Regions from separate parts of the Homo sapiens genome. Here region 1 is linked to region 2. The links come from fine-mapping of genetic effects on gene expression. Tissue or cell type: testis. Region 2 holds a variant in brackets; the other region holds the start of a gene. All regions are shown on one strand. Distances are between the middles of the regions.

What was found. PIP is the estimated chance that this variant, and not a neighbour inherited with it, causes the effect.
Region 1: it holds the start of TXNDC8, and the variant in region 2 is fine-mapped to the expression of TXNDC8 in testis (GTEx, PIP above 0.99).

Annotation. Positions count from the first base shown.
Region 1 is chr9:110,335,880-110,340,119 of GRCh38, reverse strand. It overlaps TXNDC8 (thioredoxin domain containing 8), which reads left to right and starts at 2,257. Exons shown (of 6, transcript NM_001424031.1): 1 at 2,257-2,347. The coding sequence starts at 2,324. LOC124902245 (a long non-coding RNA gene) reads right to left here and starts at 3,916. Exons shown (of 2, transcript XR_007061728.1): 1 at 1,883-3,916; 2 at 1,478-1,595.
Region 2 is chr9:110,301,991-110,306,230 of GRCh38, reverse strand. It overlaps TXNDC8 (thioredoxin domain containing 8), which reads left to right. Exons shown (of 6, transcript NM_001424031.1): 5 at 1,699-1,764; 6 at 2,648-2,755. The coding sequence ends at 2,710. All of the region lies in intron 1 of LOC124902246 (a long non-coding RNA gene), which reads right to left. Among named protein-coding and RNA genes, the nearest start is that of TXNDC8, 34 kb to the left of the region's middle. The variant A/G (reference allele first, on the strand shown) is at 2,286.

The DNA.
Region 1 (4,240 bases), 34 kb before region 2:
CTACAGAATGGGAGAAAATTTTTGCAATCTACTCATCTGACAAAGGGCTAATATCCAGAATCTACAATGAACTCAAACAAATTTACAAGAAAAAAACAACCCTATCAACAAGTGGGCGAAGGATATGAACAGATACTTCTCAAAAGAAGACATTTATGCAGCCAAAAGACACATGAAAAAATGCTCATCATCACTGGCCATCAGAAAAATGCAAATCAAAACCACAATGAGATACCATCTCACACCAGTTAGAACGGCGATCATTAAAAAGTCAGGAGACAACAGGTGCTGGAGAGGATGTGGAGAAATAGGAACACTTTTGGGCTGTTGGTGGGACTGTAAACTAGTTCAACCATTGTGGAAGTCAGTGTGGCGATTCCTCAGGGATCTAGAACTAGAAATACCATTTGACCCAGCAATCCCATTACTGGGTATATACCCAAAGGATTATAAATCATGCTGCTATAAAGACACATGCACATGTATGTTTATTGCGGCACTATTCACAATAGCAAAGACTTGGAACCAACCCAAATGTCCAACAATGATAGACTGGATTAAGAAAATGTGGCACATATACACCATGAAATACTATGCAGCCATAAAAAAGGATGAGTTCATGTCCTTTGTAGGGACATGGATGAAGCTGGAAAGCATCATTCTCAGCAAACTATCACGAGGACAAAAAACCAAACACCGCATGTTCTCACTCATAGGTGGGAATTGAACAATGAGAACACATGGACACAGGAAGGGGAACATCACACACCGGGGCCTGTTGTGGGGTGGGGGGAGGGAGGAGGGATAGCATTTGGAGATATACCTAATGTTAAATGACGAGTTACTGGGTGCAGCACACCAACATGGCACATGTATACATTTGTAACTAACCTGCACATTGTGCACATGTACCCTAAAACTTAAACTATAATAAAAAAAATTTTTTTGTTAATACGTGTATTAGTCTCTTTTCACGTTGCTGATAAAGACATACCCAAGTCTAGGTAATTTATAAAGAAAAAGAGGTTTAATAGATTCACAGTTCCATGTGGCTGGGGAGGCCTCACAATTCTGGCAGAAGGTGAAAGTCACGTCTTACATGGCAGCAGGCAAGAGAGAATGAGAGCCAAGCAAATGGGGAAACGTCTTATAAAACCATCAGATCTCATGAGATGTATTCACTACCATGAGAACAGTATGGAAGAACTGCCCCCATTATTCAATTATCTCCCACCGGTCCCTCCCACAACCCTTGGGAATTATGGGAGCTACAATTCAAGATGAGATTTGAGTGGGGACACAGCCAAACCATATCAATACATAATACTTCTACGTATTTATGGGGTACATGTGATATTTTGTTACATGCATACTTCAAATACCTCTACAGAGGCAGCCACTGTCTCCATCTGACAGTTTTCATGCAACACATGATTGAAGGCCCAGAGCTGCATATATAGAAAAACAGAAAGAAGGATTTTGCTATTTTTGTTTTATTATAGAATCTACTATTTCTCATTTTGGTTGTTCTTGTTGCTCTGTAGATTTGAAGAACATTGGCCATGGTCATGTTCAGAATTTTTCTGACATCAGTTCTGAAAATGGCAAATCATCAAGTGCAGGGGTCAGCAAACTGCTGCTGTTCTTTGTACATCCTACTAGCTGCGAATGGTTTTTACATTTTTTAAAGGTTGCAAAAACATAAGGAACATGCAACAAAGACTGTATGAGGCCCATAAAACTAAAATAGTATCTGTTCCCTTAGAGAAAACATTTGCCAACCCTTGATCTAGAGCATAAAAGTGACATTTCTTTACTCTCTAAATAATTAGAGCAAAATAACAAAGTTCAGGGAATTTATGACTCATGAAATCAAACTTACAGGAAACTCATTATTATAGGGTTAAGACTTTAGTATTTTTCTCAACAGCAAAATCTTCAAATTCTTAAGTGAAAATCTCATCTATTTAATATTACTCTGCTTACTTCTCATTTGGTGATGGGATGGAGGGATTAGAGAAGGGAGAAGGATATTTAGAAATAGGTTATAAAAGATGAAAATAAAGCAAACACATTACTGATTCTGCATATAAAGCCCTCAGTTTTCTGATTCTTGGCTGTCCACAAATGAACTAGTCATGGCATAAAAGTGAAATAGGATCCAAAGTCTGCCAAAGTTCCAGGTTCTGAGATGACATGTTTAATGATGTCATAGAGAAGTTATCCATGTATTCCAGGCAGGATACTGTAATAAATAGGAGACAGCTACAGTGATCCAACTAAACCAACAGGGGATTTTCATCAGCACTTCCCTGGTGTAATCATGGTACAGATTATTAAAGACACGGCAAGTATTTATTTGGCTTCACTGAGTATTTCAAATGTGGACATCTTGGGAACAGATTTGAAAAACTTTAAGAATGTGTTCTCTCTATCCAGTATTCTATCATTGCATTGTAGCAAGGGGAGAGTTCTAAATTCTTGTTCTTTATCTTGTTCCTTGAGGGATGGTACTATCAAGAAAAGCAGCCAAGGGTCAAATTGATAAAGAAGGGCTTTCTTCCTCCTGGACTTTTATTTCCTGCCTGACTTCAGGTGAATCCCAGACCAGCTCCTAGTACATCCCATCCTGTATCTGATCCCATGGATCGTACCTCAGTTGTGCTTGGAAAATTCCATGGAAGTAAGGAAGTCCACATCTTTTCTCTTATCCAAGGAAAAATAATAGAAACCCCAGATGTGGAATGGGGTGGGAAAATTGGGAACAGCCCAATGTTGCTGTCACAACAAATCTAAATTCATGTATAGGACAGAGATAATTCTTGATTTATAAAGGAGAAAATTGCCTCTAAAAGAGAGGTTCAGGGCTAGTTCGTTTAAGAGGTGGTGTGGGCATTAGAACCCAGACCTTCTGATGCCTGCCCTCATTACAAGAAGTCAAGAGCTGGAGGAGGGGAGGGGGTTTGGGGCCTGAGCCTCATGTCCACCAGCAGCCTCAGATTTAGACTTGTGACATTTTCCCCAAAGGTGGCTATACAGATCACAAAAATGACACTGACCAGATTGAAAGAGAGTACTGCCCTGTAACTTCGACATAAGAACATGTTTTGAAACATCACACATTTGCTAATGCTTTTGACACTTATTGTTTTAATATTCTGGGGATGTCACAGAATAGCCTGGAGCCTTATTCCCTCAGAAGACCTTTCATCTCCTCCCCAGGGACCTTTCCAGAGGCCCTGATCTCCATCCCATCTTTATTCAGATGCCACCTTCTCTTTGAGGTTGACCTTGGCCATCCAGACTACAGTTGTAATCCAACCCCCATTCTTCCTTCCTACTTCATTTTCTTTTTATTTTCTTTATTAGCAATTAGCACTAATATACTACAAATATTACCTATTGACCTTATAGTAAGCTTCCCATTCTAAAATGTAAACTCCATGGAGACAGAATGCCTAGTTTTTGTTTTGTTTTGTTTTGTTTTTGTCCACAGTGGTATCCTAGCAGTTTGTGCAGTAGCTGGCATAGTATAGGCCTCAATACGCATATGTTAAATAAATACCTATACTATGAGAGTATTCCCTTCAGATAGTTTAGTCAAGTCAAGTTCATGGGTCCAATTAGGCCAGCTCACACCCAAACAACAACTACTGGAAAGTGAAGAGTGTTGGGAGTTTGTGAGGATAGCATCTACCTTACAACTTCAGAAGCAAGTGAGAAATAAAGGCTTGGCAAGGTTCTCTGAAAAGTTAGTTACTCCCTCCCAGAGGAATATTGATAAAGAAAGAGAGTGCATCTTCTTTGAGTCATCACTTTCACCTGATTGAAACTAAACAAAGTAGCCACATAATTGTCAAGGCTATTATAGAGCAGGCATGTTGTATTAGTCTATTTGCATACTGCTATGAAGAAATGCCCAATACTTGGTAATTTATAAAGAAAAAAAGATCTAATGAACTCACGGTTCCACATGGCTGGGAAGACCTCACAATCATGGTGAAGGCGAAGGAGGGGCAAAGGCATGTCTGACATGGCGGCAGGCAAGACAGCGTGTGCAGGGGAACTGCCCTTTATAAAACCGTCAGATATTTTTAGACTGACTCACTGTCATGAGAACAGCATGGGAAAAACCCACCCCCATAATTCATTTACCTCCCACTAGGTCTCTCCCATGACATGTGGGGATTATGGGAGCTACAATTCAAGATGAGATTTGGGTGGGGACTCAGCCAAACTG
Region 2 (4,240 bases):
GATGCAGAGCTAGAGCTAGAACACTCATCCTCTGCTGGTAGAGTATAAATTGAAAATATATGCAGGCCAGGCATGGTGGCTCACACCTGTAATCCCAGCACCTTGGGAGGCTGAGATGAGCAGATCACTGGAGGTCAGAAGTTTGAGACCAGCCTAGCCAACATGGTGAAAGCCCGTTTCTGCTAAAATTTTAAAAATTAACCAGGAGTGGTGGTGGGAGGCAGAGGTGGGAGAATCGCTTGAAGCCGGGAGGCAGAGATTGCAGTGAGCTGAGGTTGCAGTGAGCTGAGGTTCCAGTGAGCTGAGATTGCGGCACTCCAAAGTCGGTGACAGAGAAAGACTCTGTCAAAAAAAGAAAAGAAAAGAAAAGAAAAAGAAAGAAAAGAAAAGAAAGGAAAAGAAAGGAAAGGAAAGGAAAGGAAAGAAAAGAAAAGAAAAGAAAGAAAAGAAAAGAAAAGAAAAGAAAGGGAAGGGAAGGGAAGGAAGGGAAGAAAGAAACAGGAAAGAAAGAAAGAAAAAGAAGGAAAGATATAAAGAGGAGAAAGAAAGAGAGTAAGAAAGAGAAAGAAAGAAAGAAGAAAATAGAAAGAAAGAAAAAGAAAGGAAGGAAGGAAGAAAAAGAAAGAAAGAAAGAAAGAAAGAAAGAAAGAAAGAAAGAAAGAAAGAAAGAAAGAAAGAAAGAAAAAGAAAATACATGCAGTATAATTTCAAAAACTGTGGGGTAGCTTCTACTGAAGCAGAACCCACAATCCCACTTCTAGCTATACAACAGAAATCAGTGCTTATGTGCTCACAAAGATATCCCTACAAAGATATGGACAAGAACATCCACAGTAGCACTATTTGTCACAGCAAAAATGGATAAACTGTGTTACATTCATGCAATGGAATACCAAAGAAACACTGAAAAATGACTGTAGTGACACTCTCCAGGTAAGTCTCATAAACATCATGTTGAGTGGAAGATGCCAGACACAGAAGAATACATATCGTAGAATTCCATCTTTCTTTTTTTCTATTTTTTAAAAACAATTACATTTGAATCAGTGCACCATATTCCTTTTTTTTTTTTTTTTTTTTTTTGAGACAGAATCTCTCTCTGTCACCCAGGCTGGAATGCAGTGGCTTGATCGTGGCTCACTGCAACCTCCACCTCCTGGGTTCAAGTGATTCTCGTGCCTCCGCCTCCCATGTAGCTGGAATTACAGGTGCACACCACCACGCCTGGCTAATTTTTGTATTTTTGGTAGAGATGGGGTTTTGCCATGTTGGCCAGACTGGTTTCAAACTCCTGATCTCAAGTGACCCACCCACCTCAGCCTCCCGAGGTGCTCAGATTACAGGCATGAGCCACTGCACCCGGCCATCCATCTTTAAAAGTCCAAAAACAGGCAAAATGAATTTATTATGTTTCCTGCCAAGTCTGGTCATTCAGGTAGCCAAGCCTTGCCTATGTTTCCACCAGACGTTCTTATCTTTGCACGAGTTCTGACCTCAGATTTTGCAGAGGATCATGAACCTCCCTTCATGCCAAAGAGCCACCACCCAGCTGCCACCTAACTCTTAGCAAAGAGAAACTTTTGCAGATCCTTTCTGACACCTTCCTTCCCTGGCCAAGGCCAAAAGAACCAGTTATAGGGGAGATGGTTACAAACCAGGCAACTCAGATAAATTATGAAATTCTGCACCCACACTTAGGTAACCCTATTCTCAAGAATCAAAAGAATAATTTGCTGTTATAGAAGTGGATTCATGAGCAACCTGGTAAGTGAAATGGGATCAAGTTAGAGTTAGAAATCTGGGGTTTACTTTGAAGGAATAAATATAATGACACACTCAGGCAGAATGCTGCTGCCTGGAGAAGCAGAAGCCTTTGGTGTGGGGATGGTTTCTCCCTGCAGCACACCGGGCAGTAAAGTTAGTTCTAGACTTTTCTAGCCCCTGCCCCAAAGTCCTAACACCATTCCTGGTGGCTCAACCGCCCCTTTACTGGGAACTCAAGTTTTCACCCAATCCCAACCTCACACTCTTCCTTGTCTTCAACCATGTAATATATTTTGAATTCCATCTTTGAATTCCATCTTTCTTCAAAAAAGATGCATTATTTTATATACCACTAAGAAGTGTTCCAAGTGAAATATAACATACCATCCACTATGAAATGCATTCTGATTCAGAGATGTAAACATTTGAAAGGAACATGTGCTTCTTAGAATCAATGAATTATAATACTCTTACCTGGGGAGAAGTCAGGGAATGACAAATCCCAAGCCATTTGATTTCAG[A/G]AGATTGTGTATATTAATTGACAAATCCTCGATACCAATGTATAAGAGCTCTGAGAAGTTCCAATGATGGAGTTTGTTTATTTCCGAGATTATTATACGTTTTAGATCTTAGATTAAAGGTATATTATGGAGAATTATAGAGATCTGGCAAAGTTTTTAGCAAAAGTAATTTTGAAAGGATGCCAAATATGAAAATATTATGAATTTAATGTGTTTAATGTATATTTATATTTAAAGTGTCTTGCAGATGATGGAAATGAGTAGGATTTAACTTTTCAATCAGGAATAAAATTCCTTAAAGCCTCAACATTTTCGCAGCACTTGAATCAATAAATGTTTCACCTTTGTGCATTTGTGAACAGATTTTTGAGTTTTGTGGAGCCGATGCTAAAAAATTGGAAGCCAAGACTCAAGAATTAATGTAAGCTGATCTCCAAGGCAAAATACACTTGTGACATTTGAAAAGGCAAGAGCAAATGTGTTTGTGCTTTCATTTCCAGCAAATACTGTAGTGTTCCACTGGTCTCTCTCCTAATGCTTTGCTGGTTGAATACCATAATGCAATCTCACTGCACAATTGCTAAAAACTGTTGCAATATGAGAGATTGCATCATTTCCATTCTCCAACTTGGGCTTCCCACTTGCTCTGAGCACACTCCTTGGGCAGTGTTTTTATGACCTTCACAAGAGAGGTCCTGCACAGCTAAGTATTACCAGGTCATCAAGATTTTCCAGAGATTAGCAAAGATCCAATTCTTCCCAGTGGTCAAGGAACAAATAAATGTCTTAGTGCCCTCGTGCACTTTGAACATATGAAAGCCTCCCCCGATTAAGCCATTTCTTATGGTACAAAATTCTTCTCCAATGCATCATTTTTTTTTTTTGAGACAGTCTTGCTCTGTTGCCCAGCCTGGAGTGCAGTGGCATGATCTCGGCTCACTGAAACCTCTGCCTACCAGGTTCAAGCTATTCTCCCACCTCAGCCACCTGCGTAGCTAGGATTATAGGCAGGCGTCATCACAACTGGCTAATTTTTGTGTTTTTAGTAGAAACAGGGGTTCACTATGTTGTCCAGGCTGGTCTCAAACTCCTGCCCTCAAGTGATCCTCCTGCCTCGGCCTCCCAAAGTTCTGGGATTACAGGCATGAGCCACCATGCCCAGCCATCATTTTATGTTTGAACTGTGTCATTTTTCTCTCTCTCTCACTCCCTTTCTAAAGTCCTCCTATAAACACAGACGTGTACACACACAGACCCACACACATACAAACCAGAAAGTCCTTTTACTGCCTATTGAAAAAAAAAAAAAAACTGAGCTAACTCAGACATTTAGAGCCCAGAGGAGATGGCTTCTTCTGTACCGTACTAATTGTGTCTATGCTGAGGCTGCACCAGATAAACACTGGAGTCTTAAGTCATAGACAGAGTGGAGCTGGCTTTCCTAGGCATTAATAACTGAGATTTTGACAAAGCATAGGCTCCATATGCTTTTTTAGAATTCTTTGGAGTAGGCAGAGCATAGTGGCTCACGCCTGTAATCTTAAAACTTTGGGAGGTCAAGGCAGGTGGATTGCTTGAGCCCAGGAGTTTGAGACCAGCCTGGGCAACATGGTGAAACCCTGTCTCTACAAAAAATAGACAAATTAGCCAGGCATGGTGGCTTGCATCTGTAGTCCCAGCTGCTTGAGAGGCTGAGGTGGGAGGATCACTTGAGCCCAGGAGTTTGAGACCAGCATGGGCAACATAGCTAGACTCTGTCTCTATAAAAAAGAAAAAAAAAATACAAAAATTAGCCAGACATGGTAGTTCATGCCTGTAGTCCCAGCTGCTTGGGAGGCTGAGGTGGGAGGATTACTTGCGCCTGGAAGGTGGAGGTTGCAGTGAGCTGAGATCATGCCACTGCACTCCAGCCTGGATAATAGAGCGAGACTCAGTCTCAAAAATAAAAATAAAAT